Linked DNA regions of Homo sapiens: all the other regions are linked to region 1. Evidence: fine-mapped expression QTL. A gene starts in region 1. Each other region holds a variant in brackets. All regions are shown on one strand. Distances are from middle to middle. Region 1 holds the start of SRD5A3 (steroid 5 alpha-reductase 3). Region 2 overlaps CLOCK (clock circadian regulator). Region 3 overlaps CLOCK (clock circadian regulator). Region 4 overlaps CLOCK (clock circadian regulator).

Evidence for each region. PIP is the estimated chance that this variant, and not a neighbour inherited with it, causes the effect.
Region 2: its variant is the best candidate, but not a certain one, in a credible set for the expression of SRD5A3 in whole blood (TOPMed, PIP 0.56).
Region 3: its variant is the best candidate, but not a certain one, in a credible set for the expression of SRD5A3 in whole blood (INTERVAL, PIP 0.68).
Region 4: its variant is the best candidate, but not a certain one, in a credible set for the expression of SRD5A3 in whole blood (INTERVAL, PIP 0.60).

Annotation. Positions count from the first base shown.
Region 1 is chr4:55,343,847-55,348,013 of GRCh38, forward strand. It overlaps SRD5A3 (steroid 5 alpha-reductase 3), which reads left to right and starts at 2,396. Exons shown (of 5, transcript NM_024592.5): 1 at 2,396-2,711. The coding sequence starts at 2,491. RefSeq lists an enhancer at 2,117-2,877 and silencers at 2,329-2,498, 2,709-2,978.
Region 2 is chr4:55,533,807-55,537,973 of GRCh38, forward strand. The region is part of intron 1 of CLOCK (clock circadian regulator); the gene reads right to left. Among named protein-coding and RNA genes, the nearest start is that of CLOCK, 11 kb to the right of the region's middle. The variant T/G (reference allele first, on the strand shown) is at 1,576.
Region 3 is chr4:55,456,270-55,460,436 of GRCh38, forward strand. It overlaps CLOCK (clock circadian regulator), which reads right to left. Exons shown (of 23, transcript NM_004898.4): 10 at 2,879-2,992; 11 at 2,623-2,741; 12 at 1-31. Among named protein-coding and RNA genes, the nearest start is that of TMEM165, 62 kb to the left of the region's middle. The variant A/G (reference allele first, on the strand shown) is at 1,653.
Region 4 is chr4:55,480,666-55,484,832 of GRCh38, forward strand. It overlaps CLOCK (clock circadian regulator), which reads right to left. Exons shown (of 23, transcript NM_004898.4): 4 at 2,074-2,163. The coding sequence starts at 2,120. Among named protein-coding and RNA genes, the nearest start is that of CLOCK, 64 kb to the right of the region's middle. The variant G/C (reference allele first, on the strand shown) is at 1,695.

The sequences.
Region 1 (4,167 bases):
GTTGAGTTTAGGGTTTTTGGCCTGAGCAACTGGAAAAATGGCTTTGCCGTTTACTGCAGGCAATACCAGTAGTTTGTTGAACATATAGTGCAGTTAATTAAATGAAGAAAGACAAAAATGCTCACTGATATTTATTAGCAATGATCTTTCTAACAGATGTTAGCCTGGTATTCCACTTTTGAACTAACTCACTCCAGTAAGGATTTACATTTACAAATACTCCCAGGAGGGTTTAACTTACGGCTTTCTGTTCAGCCACTGCCATCTACAGGGGGCTTCTCTGAATATAAACTGTGCATGCTGATTAAAATCTAAAAAATAGCCAGGCAGGGTGGCTCACGCCTGTAATCTCAGCACTTTGGGAGGCCGAGGCAAGCGGATCACCTGAGGTCGGGAGTTTGAGACCAGCCTGACCAACATGGAGAAACCCCGTCTCTACTAATAATACAAAATTAGCCTGGTGTGGTGTCACATGCCTGTAATCCCAGCTACTCGGGAGGCTGAGGCAGAATAGCTTGAACCCAGGAGGCAGAGGTCACGGTGAGCCAAGATCGTGCCATTGCACTCCAGCCCGGGCAACAAGAGTGAAACTCGGTCTCAAAAAAAAAAATCTAAAAAATATATGGGATGATTTTCCCCTCCAGCCTCCTCAACCCTTCCTGTTTCCACTACACACACACTCACACATACACACACACTTATCTTGTTTTCAATCTTGCCCCAGGTCAGACAACTGTAAGAGAAACTCCTACCCAGGAAACTGAGTCCCTGCAATGCACTTACAAGTAGCTTCTCTGAAAAGAAAAAGATCATGGACAGACCAGCTGCATTTACAGAGAGTTAACCTAAGAAAAATAAAGAAACAGTGAAGGGGTGCCAGGAGCATTGGCTCATGCTTGTAATCCCAGCACTTTGGGAGGCCGAGGCAGATGGATCACGAGGTCAGGAGATCAAGACCATCCTGGCTAACACAGTGAAACCCCATCTCCACTAAAAATACAAAAAAAAAAAAAAAAAAAAAGCCAGGCGTGGTTGGGGGGGCACCTGTAGTCCCAGCTATTCGGGAGGCTGAGGTAGGAGAATGGTGTGAACCTGGGAGGCAGAGCTTGCAGTGAGCAGAGATCAGGCCACTGCACTCCAGCCTGGGCGACAAAGCGAGACTCCATCTCAAAAAAAAAAAAAAGAAAAGAAAGAAACAGTGAAAGGGTGACTCCCGCAAAAGAGATCCAGGATCACTCAATAAGGCCTCATTGTCCTAGCTAGAATGCCAATTTAACCATCCTTAATCACCTGGCTGTCAAAGGACGGGTAAAGCCTTAGGTGTCTTTTGCACAAAGAAGAAAACTTTAAAAGCTTGCTCATTTAACAGTCCAAAGTCCCACTAACCTACCCACCCTGATGTTTATTCAACACACATATCGGGTATCTCATTGGGGTAAGGGTGATGAGTTGGCTACCTCTCCCCTCTTCCACTTCTCACCCACCACCCAATCTCAAAAATGTAAGCTCCAAATAAGCAGTGACAATTATCTTGTAAACCCCTCTGTCCTCAGTATCCAAAATGATGCCTGTCATACAGTAGGCATACAATACTTCAGAATTAACATTTTAAAGACTTTTAAATACTTAAAAGAGCTAGATTTTCACTTATAGTAAATAAAATCAGTGTTGTTTAAAATCAGTGAGTCAATAAATAGCATTGTCACTACCTGAGATAAATGTTACAGGAAACAGCTGATGGAATTTAAAAACTTTGCTTCTAAGGATTGGAACCCTATTGGTAAGCGACTGCTGTTTTTTAAACACAGTTTTTACCACTATGATTTTTATTATTATGTGCAATTACTTGTCTACATGTTTACATTATACACATATCCAACACATTTCCAGCATCCTAACATAATTATTCATTTTTGGGTGTGATCTGCCTTCTTTATCCATATATACACACATTCATATTAATATAGTTGTTTGCAATCATAGCTATGTATTTTTATGGTTGGTTTTGTTTTTCACTTCACATATTGTTTCCTAAACAGCTTTCCCTGTTTCTACACTCGTCATAATAATTCTCAATGACTGCATGATATTCTAACATGTCAGTGTATCATAATTTAGCTAAATAAACTAAAATGCAACATGTAAGGTTTCCATTTTTTGCTTTGGAGATAATGTTGATAAGAGTGGCAGACACGTGGTCTCGTCTGTTTTGCGTCTTTGCTTCTGATGAATCATATTCTGGAGCTCCATCTAAGAATCCCCATGCCCAGATTAGGGACTGCGAGCGACCACCCAGCGCCAGCGCGACCAGGACCAAGGACCTCCGCGGCTGAGCGGCGAGTCCGGGAGGGGCTCTGCGCGTCCCCGCCCCGCGCCGCGTCACCGACGTCCCGCTAGGCTGAGACCGGTGCGCCGCGCGCTAGTGGCCGCTCTTCCGCGGGCTAGCGGGCGGTGGGGGCGCCAGCAGCGCGGAAGGCGGGCACGCGGGCCATGGCTCCCTGGGCGGAGGCCGAGCACTCGGCGCTGAACCCGCTGCGCGCGGTGTGGCTCACGCTGACCGCCGCCTTCCTGCTGACCCTACTGCTGCAGCTCCTGCCGCCCGGCCTGCTCCCGGGCTGCGCGATCTTCCAGGACCTGATCCGCTATGGGAAAACCAAGTGTGGGGAGCCGTCGCGCCCCGCCGCCTGCCGAGCCTTTGATGTCCCCAAGAGGTAACCGCGCCCCGGTCCCGAGCCGCGGTGGTCAAGGCGCTGAGAGTTCGGGGCGCCCCGGCTCGCGGGCAGCCAGCAGGGGGCAGCAGAGGCGGGACCCGGCCTGGGAGGCCCTGGCGGGTTCCCGGGCGCAGCACGGCGCTCCCTCGGCCTGGCCCCGGCCATGCCCCGGCTGCTGCGTGGCTCCGGGGAGCAGTGCCCGGGTGTCCGCGGACGCCGAGGGAGAGCGGAGCCGCTTGCACTCAGCTGGAGGAATGTGAACTGGTAGCCGCACGGAGCCTTTCCCTGTGGGAAATGGCAACGCATCCGAATTTAGGCCTGGTCATGCGAATTTAGGCGGCAAATTGAAGTGCCCCTTGCCCCAAATTCTCCTTTTTCCCGTACCCTGCACTCCAGTGGCTCATACTCTAACTTGAGGTCACCGGGAATCATTTGTGGAAATGAAGTTAGGCCGGCTCTTCGGCCTCGGCTTCCCCCGTTTCTCTTCCCAACCCTTGCAGTGGGGACAAAGGACTGAGTCGCCCTAACCTGCACCTTGGCAGGTGCCCCTGGGGAAGGTGGCCCAAGGTGCAGGTCATAGGCAGGCCCGTCCCGAAGCTCCATTTGACTTTCGAAAAATTCTGTAACCCAGTTCAGCGAAGGATTAAATCGTCAGGTTTTAAATAGAGACCTGTTATAATTTTCTTCTTCTCCTTTTTCCACTTTAAATTCAGGACATAGCTGGAAAGAGTTGGCCAAATACTATTCGAGATGGTAGAAATAGAACAGTGCCCCTTAAGATGCATCTTAGGCCGGGCGCAGTGGCTCACGCCTGTAATCCCAGCACTTTAGGAGGCTGAGGCAGGCGGATCGCTTGAGTTCAGGAGTTCGAGACCAGGCTGGGAAATATAGTGAGACTCCGTCTCTCCTGAAAATACAAAAAATTGGCAGGGCTTGGTGGCGTGTGCCTGTAGTGCCAGCTACTTGGAATGAAGGCAGGAAGATCATCTGAGATCAGGCATTGGAGACTGCAGTGGGCTATAATCATGGCACTGCACTCTAGCCTGGGCAACAGAGAAATACCTTGTATTTAAAAAAAATTTTTTTTTAAAGGTTAAAAACATCTGGGTTGTCGCTTGAAACACTCATAGGCAGTGCCCCAGGTCCGCAGGCAACAAAGGGACAAGTATAATTTGGCTTCTAAAACTTGGATAATCTGCGAATTTTGACTGTCAGAGAAAGATGTGTCATGTGTTAACACAGAGAAGGGAGAACTAGGTCATTCTGAGGCACCCTAAAGGGAAGAAGTAGAAGTACATGAAACAAATTGATCAAACCTCCTGTTTCCTAGAGGCTCTTTTTAAGCAAAAATTACCTGTTATCCCATTTGTAATCAGGGTTGAATCCTTTTATACTTCACAGCAATTTATTTTCTGAGTTTTGAGAAAGGTACTAGTCTAGTGTACCTGGATTAAAT
Region 2 (4,167 bases), 190 kb after region 1:
GCAGGAGAACAGCTTGAACCTGGGAGGCAGAGGTTGCAGTAATCCAAGATCATGCCACTACACTCCAGCCTGGGCAACAGAGTGAGACTCCATCTCAAAAAAATAAAACAAAAACAAAGTGCTTGTTTAAGATGCAGGAGAGTGGACACTTGTTTACTAAATTCAAGACACACTACAAAACTTTTGCTTTTCAGTAAACTCTCGATGTTTTCCTTTTTGCCTGTGTCTTAAAACATTAATGTATAAAGAACCCAATAGTAATAAAATGTTTTGTACATTTGTTTGCCATTTAATCTAGCTTGTACTACCCTATGATTAACAGCACTGAAGTAATTAATAATTACAGTTGTAATATGCAGCGAGTCAAGTGGAGCATCAGTGCAACAATACCAAACTTGAAACGAGTGCTTATTCTACTCTCAACTATCACCAAGCCAATCCTCCTCAAACTCTTCCAAAGAACTAAATGTGAGAGAACATTTCCAAACTCATTCTAAAAGGCCAGCATTACCCTGATATCAAAATCAGACAAAGATACCACAAAAAAAGAAAGCTACAGCAATAAACCTAATGAATACTGATTTTTTTACCCTTAAAAAAATACTAGCAAACCAAATTCAACAGCACACAGTCTATGTGCTGTTGTACTGCAGAATCTAATACTCCTGGGTATTTTTGTTATAGCAGCCAAAACTAAGATATCCATTCTATCCTCACATGCTAATAGACTCTAATCCCCTACACCTTGATTTGGTTTTCTCTACAATACAAATATCCATCTAGCATATATTTAACTCACTAGTTTCTCATCTGGTTTCCTCAGTTAGAACATAAGCTCCCTGAAGGCAGGGCTTTGTTCCCCAGCAGACAGAATAGTAGCTGGCACAGAACAGAATGCTCAATAAATACTTGCTGAATGAACAAGATGAAGACCACCATTAAAGGTATACTAAAAGACTTCAAAGCACTACTGAGAAAAATGAAAGGCCTAAATGAATGGAGAGGTATACTGTGTTCAAGGATCAAAGGACTCAATGTTGCTATCAGTTTTCTTTAAATTAATCTATAGAGTAAATACAACCCTAAACAAAATCTCAGCAGCCTTTTCTGTATAAAGTGAGAATTTTTTTTTTTTTTTTTTTGAGACAGTCTTGCTCTGTCATCCAAGCTGAGTCCAGCAGCACAGTCAATGGCTCACTGCAACCTCAACCTCCTGGGCTCAAGCAATCCTCCCATCTCAGCCTCCTGAGTAGGTGGGATCACAAGTGCATGCCACCATGTCTGGCTAATTTTTTTCTATTTTTTTGGAGAGCCAAAGGCCTCGCTATATTGCCACTACACTCCAACCTGGTCAATACAGAAAGACCTCTTTATCAGTATAAAAAAAAATTTTTTTGCTTCTTGATTATGGTGATTACAAGAATGTTTAGGTTTGTCAAAACTCAAGCTGCATACTTAAATTGGGCAGATTTTAACATATATACATTATACCCCAATAAAAATCAATTTTAAAAAATATACATCAAAAACTGAAACCCAACAACAAAATACCTAAAGAACACTACATAAAACAGC[T/G]CATAAATATTGAGTATTCTGCATACCTTTAAAAAATGACAGGCGCCAGCTAGAGTGGCTCATGCCTGTAATCCTAATAATTTGGAAGGTCAAAGCAGGAGGATCACTTGAGCCCAGGAGTTCAAGACAAGCCTGGGCAACAAAGTCACATCCTATCTCTGCAAAAATAAATGACAATAATAATAATAATAGGAAATTGTCTGCACTTAGGTAAAATGAACTAGTTTGAAGCAGGCCAATATTCTTGCTAAGAACAACTTAAAAAGCTAAATAAATTATAAAAATCATATTTTTAAAGTTAGTGAGGAGCTGTGGAAGCATGGGAAAGAAGGTCTAAAATTCCAGTGATGGGAGAATCTTTTTTTTTTTTTTTTTTTGAGATGGAGTCTTGTTGCTCTGTCACCCAGGCTGGAGTGCAGTGGCACAATCTTGGCTCACTGCAACCTCCACCTCAGAGATGGGGAGAATATTTTAAAGGTATTTAGATGACCAGTATCTGTCTTTTCCCTGGGAGTATTTCCTAATTATTGCTTGGGTTAGAGGCTGAAAATTGAGGCCTGACCTGTGTAAAATATTGTTGCTGAGGAACACAGAAGCCAGGACAGCTTTTGGTGTTCACACAGGGCTGGAATAACAACACTAGGAGACTAATTCTCCTAAAAAGTTTCACGCAAGGACCTCAAGCTTAAAGGTGGTATCTCCCCTCAGCATACTTGCTGAATTTTAAAACCGTGCAGGGTAAAAGGCTACAAAGTCAACTAAAAAACTTTGAAAAGCAAAGTGAAATTTCCTACCTTTGGCATTGCTAAAGGGACAAGACCAATAGGCTTTGAAATGAATGCCTTAGAAGACAACATCTGAAAAAACAAGGAAAAATAAGGATAGCAAACTATTAAAATAGCAACCCAGCCTCCACATAATTTAAGATGATGGGCTCCTGATATGGGTTGGATGCTTGTCCCCTCCAAATCTCATGATGAAATGTAAATGTAATTCCCAATGTTGGAAGTTGGGCCCAGTAGGAGGCAACTGGATCATGGGGGCAGATCCCTCATGAATGGTTTAGTACCATCTCCTCGGTAATAAGTGAGTTCACACAAGATCTGGTTGTTGAAAAGTCTGGGACCTGCCCCACCTTGCTCTCTTGCTCCCACTCTTGCCTTGTCATGCACCTGCTCTCCCTTCACTTTCAGCCATGACTAGAAACTTACTAAGCCTCACTATAAGCAGATGCCGGCACCATGCTTCCTATACACTTTGGAGAACCGTAAGCCAATTAAGCTTCTTTTCTTTATAAATTACCCAGTCTCACGTATTCTTTTATAGTAATGCAAACAGACTAATACAGCTCCCTAGCCTATCTGCATAGAAAATGAACTTCCCCTTCCCCCACCCCTCTCCCAACCCGGCAAAATGTACCATTACCTGGTAATGCTTACTTAAGTTTTTTACTACACAATGCCTGGCATTCAATAAAAAATTATGAGACATAAACAAAACAATCAACAGACTTGACCTAACTGACATTTGTAAAACACTCCACCTAACAACAAAACACACATTCTTTTCAACTGCACATGAAGAACACTTACAATGATAGAATATATTCTAGGCCATAAAATAAATCCGAATAAATTTAAAATTATCTCATTACAATGGAATTAAATTAAAAATAACAATGATCTCTGGAAAATCCTCAAATATTTGAAAACTATATAACACACTTATAAATAAACTATAGACCCAGTAAGACATCAGGAAAGAAATTATAAAGTACTCTGAATGGAATGAAAATGGAAACATATCAAAAACTGGAAACGGCCAGGAGTGGAGGCTCACATCTGTATCCCAGCACTCCAGGAGGCCAAGGAAAGAGGATTGCTTGAACTGAGTTCAAGACCAACATGGGCAACACAGTGACATCCTTGTCTTCAGAAAAAATTGTAATAAACTCTGGCCAGGTGTGGTGGCTTACACCTGTAATCCTAGCACTTTGGGAGGCTGAGGCAAGTGGATTGCCTGAGCTCAGGAGTTGACGACCAGCCTGGGCAACATAGTGAAACCCTATCTCTACAAAAAATACAAAAATTAGCCAGGCATGATGGCACGCGCCTGTAATCCCAGCACTTAATAGACTCTGGTGCGAGGATCTCTTGAGCCTGAGACGTCGACACTGTGGTGACCCCGTGATTGGGCCACTGCACTAAAGCCTAGGCAACGGAGTGAGACCCAGTCTCAAAAAAATAAAAATAAAAATAAAAAATTAGCCAGGCATGGTGGCACATGCCTGCAGTCCCAGCTACTCAGGAGGCTGAGGTGGGAGGATCACTTGAGCCTGAGAGGTCAAGGCTGCAATGGGCCATGATCACGATACTGTACTGCCTGAGCAGTAGTGAGACCTTGTCTCAAAAAACAAATAAATAAATTATAAACAATTAAAGGGAAGTTTATAGCATGCTTACATTAGAAAAGAAAAAAGGTCACAAATCAATGACCTCAGCTTCTATCTTAAGAAACCAGAAAAAGAAAACAAATTAAACCCAAAAGTAAGCTGAGGAAAGGAAATAAAGACCAGGGCGGAAATAAGAAAAC
Region 3 (4,167 bases), 110 kb after region 1:
CTTCATTGGGTTCTTCAACAGTGCACATTTCCTACAAATAAATAATTAAAATTTATAAATACTTTGTGTCCTTAAGAATATTAAATATTGCTACATATAAAAATAAGTCATGGCCAGGTGCAGTGGCTCACACCTGTAATCCCAGCACTTTGGGAGGCTGAGGTGGGCAAATCACTTAGGTCAGGAGTTTGAGACCAGCCTGGCCAACATGGTGAAACCCGATTTCTACTAAAAATACAAAAAATAGCAGGGCACGGTGGCGGGCACCTGTAATCCCAGCTATTCGGCAGGCTGAGGCAGCAGGATCACTTGAACCCAGGAGGTGGAGGTTAAATAAATACATAAATAAATAGTCATTACTAGATAAACTTTTCCTAAACAAGTTAGTTGTTTCTATGTATGTATATATTTACCTATTTCTTTGTTTGACACAGGGTCTCACTCTGTCACTCAGCCTGAAGTACAGTGGTGTGATCTCAGTTCACTGCAGCCTCAACATCCTAGGCTCAAGCGATCCTCCTGCCTCAGCTTCCCAAGTAGCTGGGACTATAGGGATGCACCACCACGCCCGGCTAATTTTTGTATTTTTATTTGTAGAGGTGGGGGGTCTATGTTGTCTAGGCTGGTCTTCAACTCCTGGGCTCAAGCAACCTGCCCACCACAGCCTCCCAAAGTGCTGGGATTCTAGGCATAAGCCAAAATGCAGGCCCTTCTAAACAAGTTAATATATTTTAATTTTCCAGTACTAAAGAATGTGGTAATAAATAACCTTTAGATGCAAGCTTTTGGGTGGGTACTTCTCACTCTACACATTTTCCATTCACACATGCCTATAAACGCTTATTCAAAATTCAGACCTCTCTCCTGAATTACAGTTCCATATTTCCAAATATCTGAATGTCCTCATACATCTCAAATTCAATATGTCCTAAAATAAACTAACTGCTTTACTCCTCACACCCAATCACACAATTTTCCGTATTATTCTATACATGTGTAGTGGCCAGTGTCTAGAAATCTGATAGTTAAAAAAACATACTCTTTCATTTTTACCTTTCATCATCTAAGTGGCCATTACTAAATCTTTTCCATTTCATCTAAGTATTTTAAAAATCAATTCTATCTCATCCATCTTGAGTGCATTGGTTTAGACCCCTGCCATCACTGATTTGCTACAGTGTTCACCAGTCTCCCTGTCCTTCAACTCATCTTCTCTTCTAGGGCCACAATTACCTTACCAATACTCAAATATTATATGACTTCCCTGCTAAAAAACCTTCAGTGGTTCCTTGTGCTAAACTCTCTTCAGCATGGAGAAATAAACAAGAAAGAAACAAATTTTATTTCTGGTTTCTGATTACTTTTCTAGCCTTACCTCCCACTATCTCTTCCCCCTCCACACACTAACCCTAGACTCTAGTCATACTAAACAATGTATTCCATCCTGCCTCTGTGTCCCTGAATGACCTGCAGCACTCTGTAATAGTTGAGAGCTTGGGCTTTGAGAAAAAAACAATTATTAATTAATAGAATCAAGTCCCAGTTTCATCACTAATAGCTGAGACTTTGGGCAAGTCACTTAACTTCCCTAAGCCTGTTTCCTTATAATGTAAAATGAGGGATCGTAATGGCATCTAACTTATAGGGTTGTC[A/G]TAAGAATTAATGAGATAATGCATATAAAATACACAGCATGTAGTAAGCACTCAAATGTTAACAACTATTATTTCATAAGATCAAAACAAACCAAGCAAGACTGGCTTAAGATCTTCTATTAATTCAGTACTTTGTCCTATACTATGATGTCCCCCCAAATTTATTTGAGACAGAGTCAGACTCTGTCTCAAAATAAAATGCAAACACAGTTCACTGCAGCCTCGACCTCCTGGGCTCAAATGATCCTCCTGCCTCAGCCTCCTGAGTAACTGAGACCACAGGTGTGTAACACCATGCCTGGCTAATTTTTTGTATTTTTTGTAGAGATGGGGTCTTGTCACGTTGCCCAGGCTGGTCTCAAACTACTGGGCTCAGGCAATCCTCTCGCCTTGCTCTCCCAAAGTGCTGGGATTACAGGCATGAGTCACCTCGCCTGGCCCCGCCGAAATTTTAAATCTTAGCCTGGCTGCCTCTTTCCAGTCAGTTTCTAGTGGTTAACTCTTTCACTTTCCCACTTCCCTACTTGTCATCTGTTTGTTGGGTCCAGGAAATAAAAATAAAATACCTAATTTTACATTTGAAAAGGTAAGTTATATGTGGCAAAGAGCCACTTGTACATTTCAAATAAAAATTTAAAAGTTACCTTCTAAAAATAAAGATTCCAAAAACCTAGATTTTTGGACTTTCCCTTTTAATAGAGATAATGAACAACACACAAAAGGATCCTAAAATCTTCCACAAAAGTAGGGCAATATTGATATATAATAATCACTGGTTAACTGCAAAGGATATATACTAAAAAATTAGTTATACAATTTAATGAGTGTCTTGATAACTCATCGTTTCAAAAATATTATCATGCATATTTAATGACTCATAGCCATTCCACCTCAATGTCTGCAGGAAGTTTCAGGCAGCTCTCAGCATATGAACTGAAATCCCCTTTGGGAAATAAAATTAAAAACATACCTTGATGAACTGAGGTGTAGCTAACCTGACAGTAGCTACAAAACAAACTCTATCTTCATAAGATGGCCTATGTGTGCGTTGTATAGTTCCTTCAAAACCATTGTGTGCTGAAGAGGATACTAAAACAATAGGGAAATATGTATCATCAGTTATGCCAGCAAAACCTAATTGTCACTGATATTCAAACATCTATGTCTTTAAGAGCACAGAAAAATAACAAGTTAAAACACATTGTGAGAGAAGCATTTTAACTCACCACTGTTTAAAGATTTGAAATTTCCTATAAATTTTACATATTCATAGGTAGATGGCTCCTTTGGGTCTATTGTTCCTCGCAGCATGTGACAACAGAATTCTAACTGATTTTTTGCTGAAATAAAAGAGATTTTAAAAATCACATATTTCTGATATAAAACAATGATTGATATACCACATAAAGTAAGATCATAAAAGTTGTGTAAGTTTACAACCATTATTTTCCCCAACAGAAGTCGTCAATGACATTTAGTTCATAAAAGTAGAGCACCTTCAGGAGAGGATCTCACTTTGTCTTTAATAGAAAAAATAGATTTTCTGGTGCAAACAACTTAATGTTTCCCTATTTTTAGCTACTCATCCTTTTCATTCTTTACTCACTTTCAAAGGAAAGTTTTGCTTCACATTCTAAAGCTAATCCTTCCATCTCTACCATTTATAGTCTTTCCTATTTTCTCTAGGACCCGGGCCACATCACTGTTCCTTATTCCTTTAGCATCTACACCTTTGGGTCCTTACTTTCTTCTTTTTTTTGAGACAGGGTCTTGATTTGTCACCCAGGCTGGAGTGCAGTGGCATGATCACTGCTCACTGTGGCATTGAACTCCTGGGCTCAAGTGAGCCCCCTGCCTCAGCCTCCCAAGTACGCAAGACTACAGGTGTGAGCCACCATGCCTGGCTAATTTTTAATTTTTTATAGAAATGGGGTCTCACTATGTTGCCCAGGCTGGTTGCAAGCTTCTAGGCTCAAGCAATCCTCCTGCCTCAAAGTGGAGGGATTATAGGCGAGAGCCACTGCACCTGGCCAAGGGTCCTTACTATCTACTTTTAAATTTGCTCACGTCTTCCATCTGAAATAAAGGAGTTTCACTAATTATTTGGTATTATAGATCTCCTTCCTTTTCATTATGGGCTCCATCTTCCATATATTCATTTCCCTTAACTTCACACACTGTGACTTACACCTCTACAGCAATTATTCTTCTCAAGATTACTAACATTTGTATCGTTAACTTCAATGATTTTTCATTTCCACTTCTTAAAAGTCATCCTTTGTCATTCCCACAGCATAAACTTACCTTCCCACCTTACTGACTATTCCTATCTCTTCTGCTAATCCATTTTCATACTAGGGGTTTTCACAAAGGTTCTTCTGATCCTAAATCTCTCTCTCCAACTCTAGCATTTTACGTGAGACAAAGTTACCTATCATTTGCTTTCAGGACATTCGAACTTGATTGTCCCATTAGTAACTTAAATTCAAAATACTTGAAAGTGAATTTATCTTTC
Region 4 (4,167 bases), 140 kb after region 1:
GGATCACGAGGTCCAGGAGATCGAGACCATCCTGGCTAACACAGTGAAACCCAGTCTCTACTAAAGATACAAAAACTTAGCCGGGCGTGGTGATGGGCAACTGTAGTCCCAGCTACTCAGGAGGCTGAGGCAGGAGAATGGCGTGAACCCAGGAGGTGGAGCTTGCAGTGAGCCGAGATCGTACCACTGCACTCCAGCCTGGCCAACAGAGTGAGACTCTGTCTCAAAAAAAAAAAAGAGATGAGTTTTAATTTTTTTTAAAGGGGTGATGTTTTAGTAACTGCAGTCTGAGCGGTTAGTGGGGGACACGTGAGCTAGGATCTAAGTGACAAGAAGGGGCTGGCTATGGGAAGATGTAAGGAAAGACCATTCCTAAAAAATAAAATCAAGAGCATTGGTGGCTAACTCAACCCTAGGAGCAATATTAAAGTTTCTGCTGATTTATGAAGTTTTACATAAATTCCCTATTCACTCCTTTAGCCACACCTTTCTATGGCCTATAAAGGCCTATATGCTATAAAATGGAGTCACTATTGAGATCACCTGTAACACTCATATCATGGTGGAGGTGCATGTATGAACTTGGGGATTCCATGTAGGCCCTGAAATTTATAAAAAATTGTTATATGTATATGAATTTTCCGAGAACAGAGTTCATAACTTCCATGACATTCAGAGATAAGGAACCCATATTAATAATCACTGCTTTATGTCTGAAAATACAAATGTCATCCCTAGGTGTCATACTATCTAGAATGGGAAAAGCATAATGCCAAATTCATATTTTATCCATCAAAGGCAGTGAAGAAATATCTTTTCCAAGAAAAAGACTATCATTAATTCCGCCTGTAACTATGGCACAGTTCAAAGCTATTGACATGGTGCAGGCAGGCTTCTTTAAGGAAGTTTCTTGCTCCTCACATCTTAAGTTCTGGTGGAGTATACATCTTTACTATCTAGCTCATAAAAAGGGAGAAGAGCTGTCCCCAGATGTCAAAAGTCACTTCTGTGTACAAGTCTAGCTGCAAAACTCTTAAAGAATCCCAATGGATGGAGCACACCGAACAGTGCAATAAACGCATTAACAACTTTAATGTCAGACAAACCAACACAAGTAAAAATTCCAGATCATATCTTACTAGCTATGTGACTTTAAACAAGTTATTTAACCTCTCTGACCTACAGTTTTCTCATTTGTAAAATCTTGCAGAATTATTGAGGTTAAATAACATGTAAAAAAGTATTCTGTACATTTGCTGTCAGAGTAGATGCTTTAAAAATGTTGTTGGATTATATCAAATTTAAGATATTATTGACTGTTAAGATCACCACTATTTTATGTGCCCTTAAGAAAGAAAAAAAGAGTGCTACCAATTAAATTATGATAAGAGATGCTAAAATGTAAAAAACAAAGACAACTTAAAGTCTTTTCTTTTCTACTTTTACTTTAGGTTCAGGGGTACCTGTGTAGGTTTTTCATGCGGGTAGACTACGTGTCGCTGAGGTTTGGTGTACCAATGATCTCACCACCCAAGTAGTGAGCACAGTACCCAATAGTTTTTTAACCCTCACTGCCCCCTTCCACCCTCCTCCAAAAATTTCAAGTATTAAAATCAAAGGAATATGGAGATTTACCCTTTTCCCAAGAGTATGATGTAAAGATTACAATTTTAACTAATGAAATCCTAATTATA[G/C]TTACTTCTTATCAGTCACAAATGCTAAGATGCTTGAAGGGATGAAGTTAGATAAGAAGAAAAAGGACTCCAGAAGGTTCCAAGGAAACATTTGCAACTGTCAGAATTTCCTTCAGAGCAGCTATGACCAAATCACTAAAAATTACAAGTCAGGACTCATTTAAAACACACAAGCCATATGCTGCTGACTTTGCCTCTGGAAAATACTGATATACCTTACTTATTTTTTTATACTATATTTGTTTAATACAGAAACTGAATGCAATAGTAATTATGTTTAGGCATAAAATTCCTTCTATCAATTTCATATAGACCATTATTCTAATAGTGCATTTTAAAATAATTATATATAACTTAAAATAAGTCTTCAAAAACATACCTGTCAACAATCGAGCTCATTTTACTACAGCTTACGGTAAACAACATAACATACTACGTTTTCGTCTTGTAGTAGACATTTGTACTTCTCCTTAGGTGAAAAGAAAAATAAATGGTCATTAGTTTTCTAAAAATGTTACTTCCACAAACTTATCTTGAGAAATACTATATGTTATCACAGAGACTTCAAAACGTTTTGTTTGTACTGAAGATCAGAACATTATTTTCAAGCAAATACCTATGGCTGAGGTACATTTGAGGCTTCTTTTCCCCTCCTAAAAAACACCTACAAGAAAAAAAGTAATTCAGGCTCATATTAACTTTCTCTTTACTATCAATCAAAATAAAATGGACATTCTCAATATTCAGTATATATTTGACTATATAACTACAAATAGTCTGTAATAACACCATCTATTCAGCAATAAATATTTGTTGAAAGCCTATTTTCTGCTAAACAGTACAGCAGGCTTTGGGCACATAACAGTGAAAGACACAGTCCCTGTAGGAAAAATTTGCAATTGAGCAGGAAGATAGATATCTAAATAATTATAATAAGAGGTATAATGAAGGTATATACTGTGTAATGCTATCACTGGGCAAGGAACAATTATGTCTACCCGTGGGAATTAGAGAGGGGAAACGAGGAAATATTCTTGATGACAGTAAGTCTGTCAGGGAGTCAAAATTCTTTTTTAATGCAAATATGGTGCAGGGATGGGCAGCATCACCATCCTCTGAGAGCTTGTTTTCAAAGGCAAAATCTTAATGAACCAGAATCTACATTTTCACAAGGGCTCCACGTGATAATGTATGACCACTTAAGTTTGAGAAGCAACAGGCTGGAGGACAGAAACAGATAATAGGTGAAAGAATTTTAAGCGACAGGAATGGCAATTTGTAAAGGCACAGGCCTTAGTGAGACAAAAGAATATCGTATTTGAGAAACTAAGAGGTTTAGCATTTTCCTTATGAAAAACCTGGGATGTTACAATTTAAAGTTATAATTACTAGACCATAAAGTTTGAGAATACAAGTGGTAAACTGGCAAAGGCAAGTCAAGTACAGGAGAGTCTTACTATAAAGAGTCTCATACCCAAATTGAAGGAAGTAAAACTTACTGCTTTAAAGCTGGATCACAAGCCTAAAATTTGTCTCTCTATATTCTATAGGTTGAGTATCCCTAATCTGAAAACCTGAAATCCAAAATACTCCAAAATCTGAAAGCTTTTGAGCATCAACATAATGTTCAACATTCAAAGGAAATGCTCAACGGAGCATTTCTAAACCAGAGAAGATTAAAGATATTACAAGAACGTGAGATTCTAAACATTCAGTCACTGTTTTCAAATGCACCTTCATGAAAGGAAAGGAGAATAACCCTGGCAACATTGCTGCATTGCCTGTATGGTTATGGCTGCAGAAGTAGAACTGTGAGGGGCTCAGAATATTTTTTTTTCTTTTTGTTTTTGAGATGGGGTCTTACTCTGTTGCCCAGGGTGGAGTGCTGTGGCATGATCATAGCTCACTGCTGCCTTGAAATCCTGGCCTCAAGCAATCCTGCCACTTCAGCCTCCTGAGTAGCTGGGATTACAGGTGCTCGCTACCATACCCAGGGCTAAGAGTTCTTAAAAGAAAATGAGTGACAGAGTCAAAGATAGAAATAATAAAATAAAAAGGACTAACACCAGGATGAAAAGTTGTGATTTTAAGTGTCTGAGGTAGTATCAGCAGATGGAACACAGAACTACAGAATTTTAGAGGTAGAAGAGAATTTAAAGACCACCTAAGTACATTTCTCTGGTCCAACAGACATATTTATCTTCATGGTAAGAAGTGAGGCTGATTCTATCACTAGAAGAGGAAGAACAGTATAAAAGTAATAGGGCAAATTTCAGTGAATTCAAAAAGAATTGTTAAGAGTAAAAAGTTCAAAAGGCCAGATCTGAGCCTTATAAGGCACCCAGTAAGTATGGCTTAATTATCAAAAGGTAGAAAATAAGACAAACTACCAAAAAAAGGGCAGGGGGTGGTGGCGGGGACTAGGCAACGCCAAGAATTAAGGGTTATACTACAGGAAAAGCCTTGCTGACTA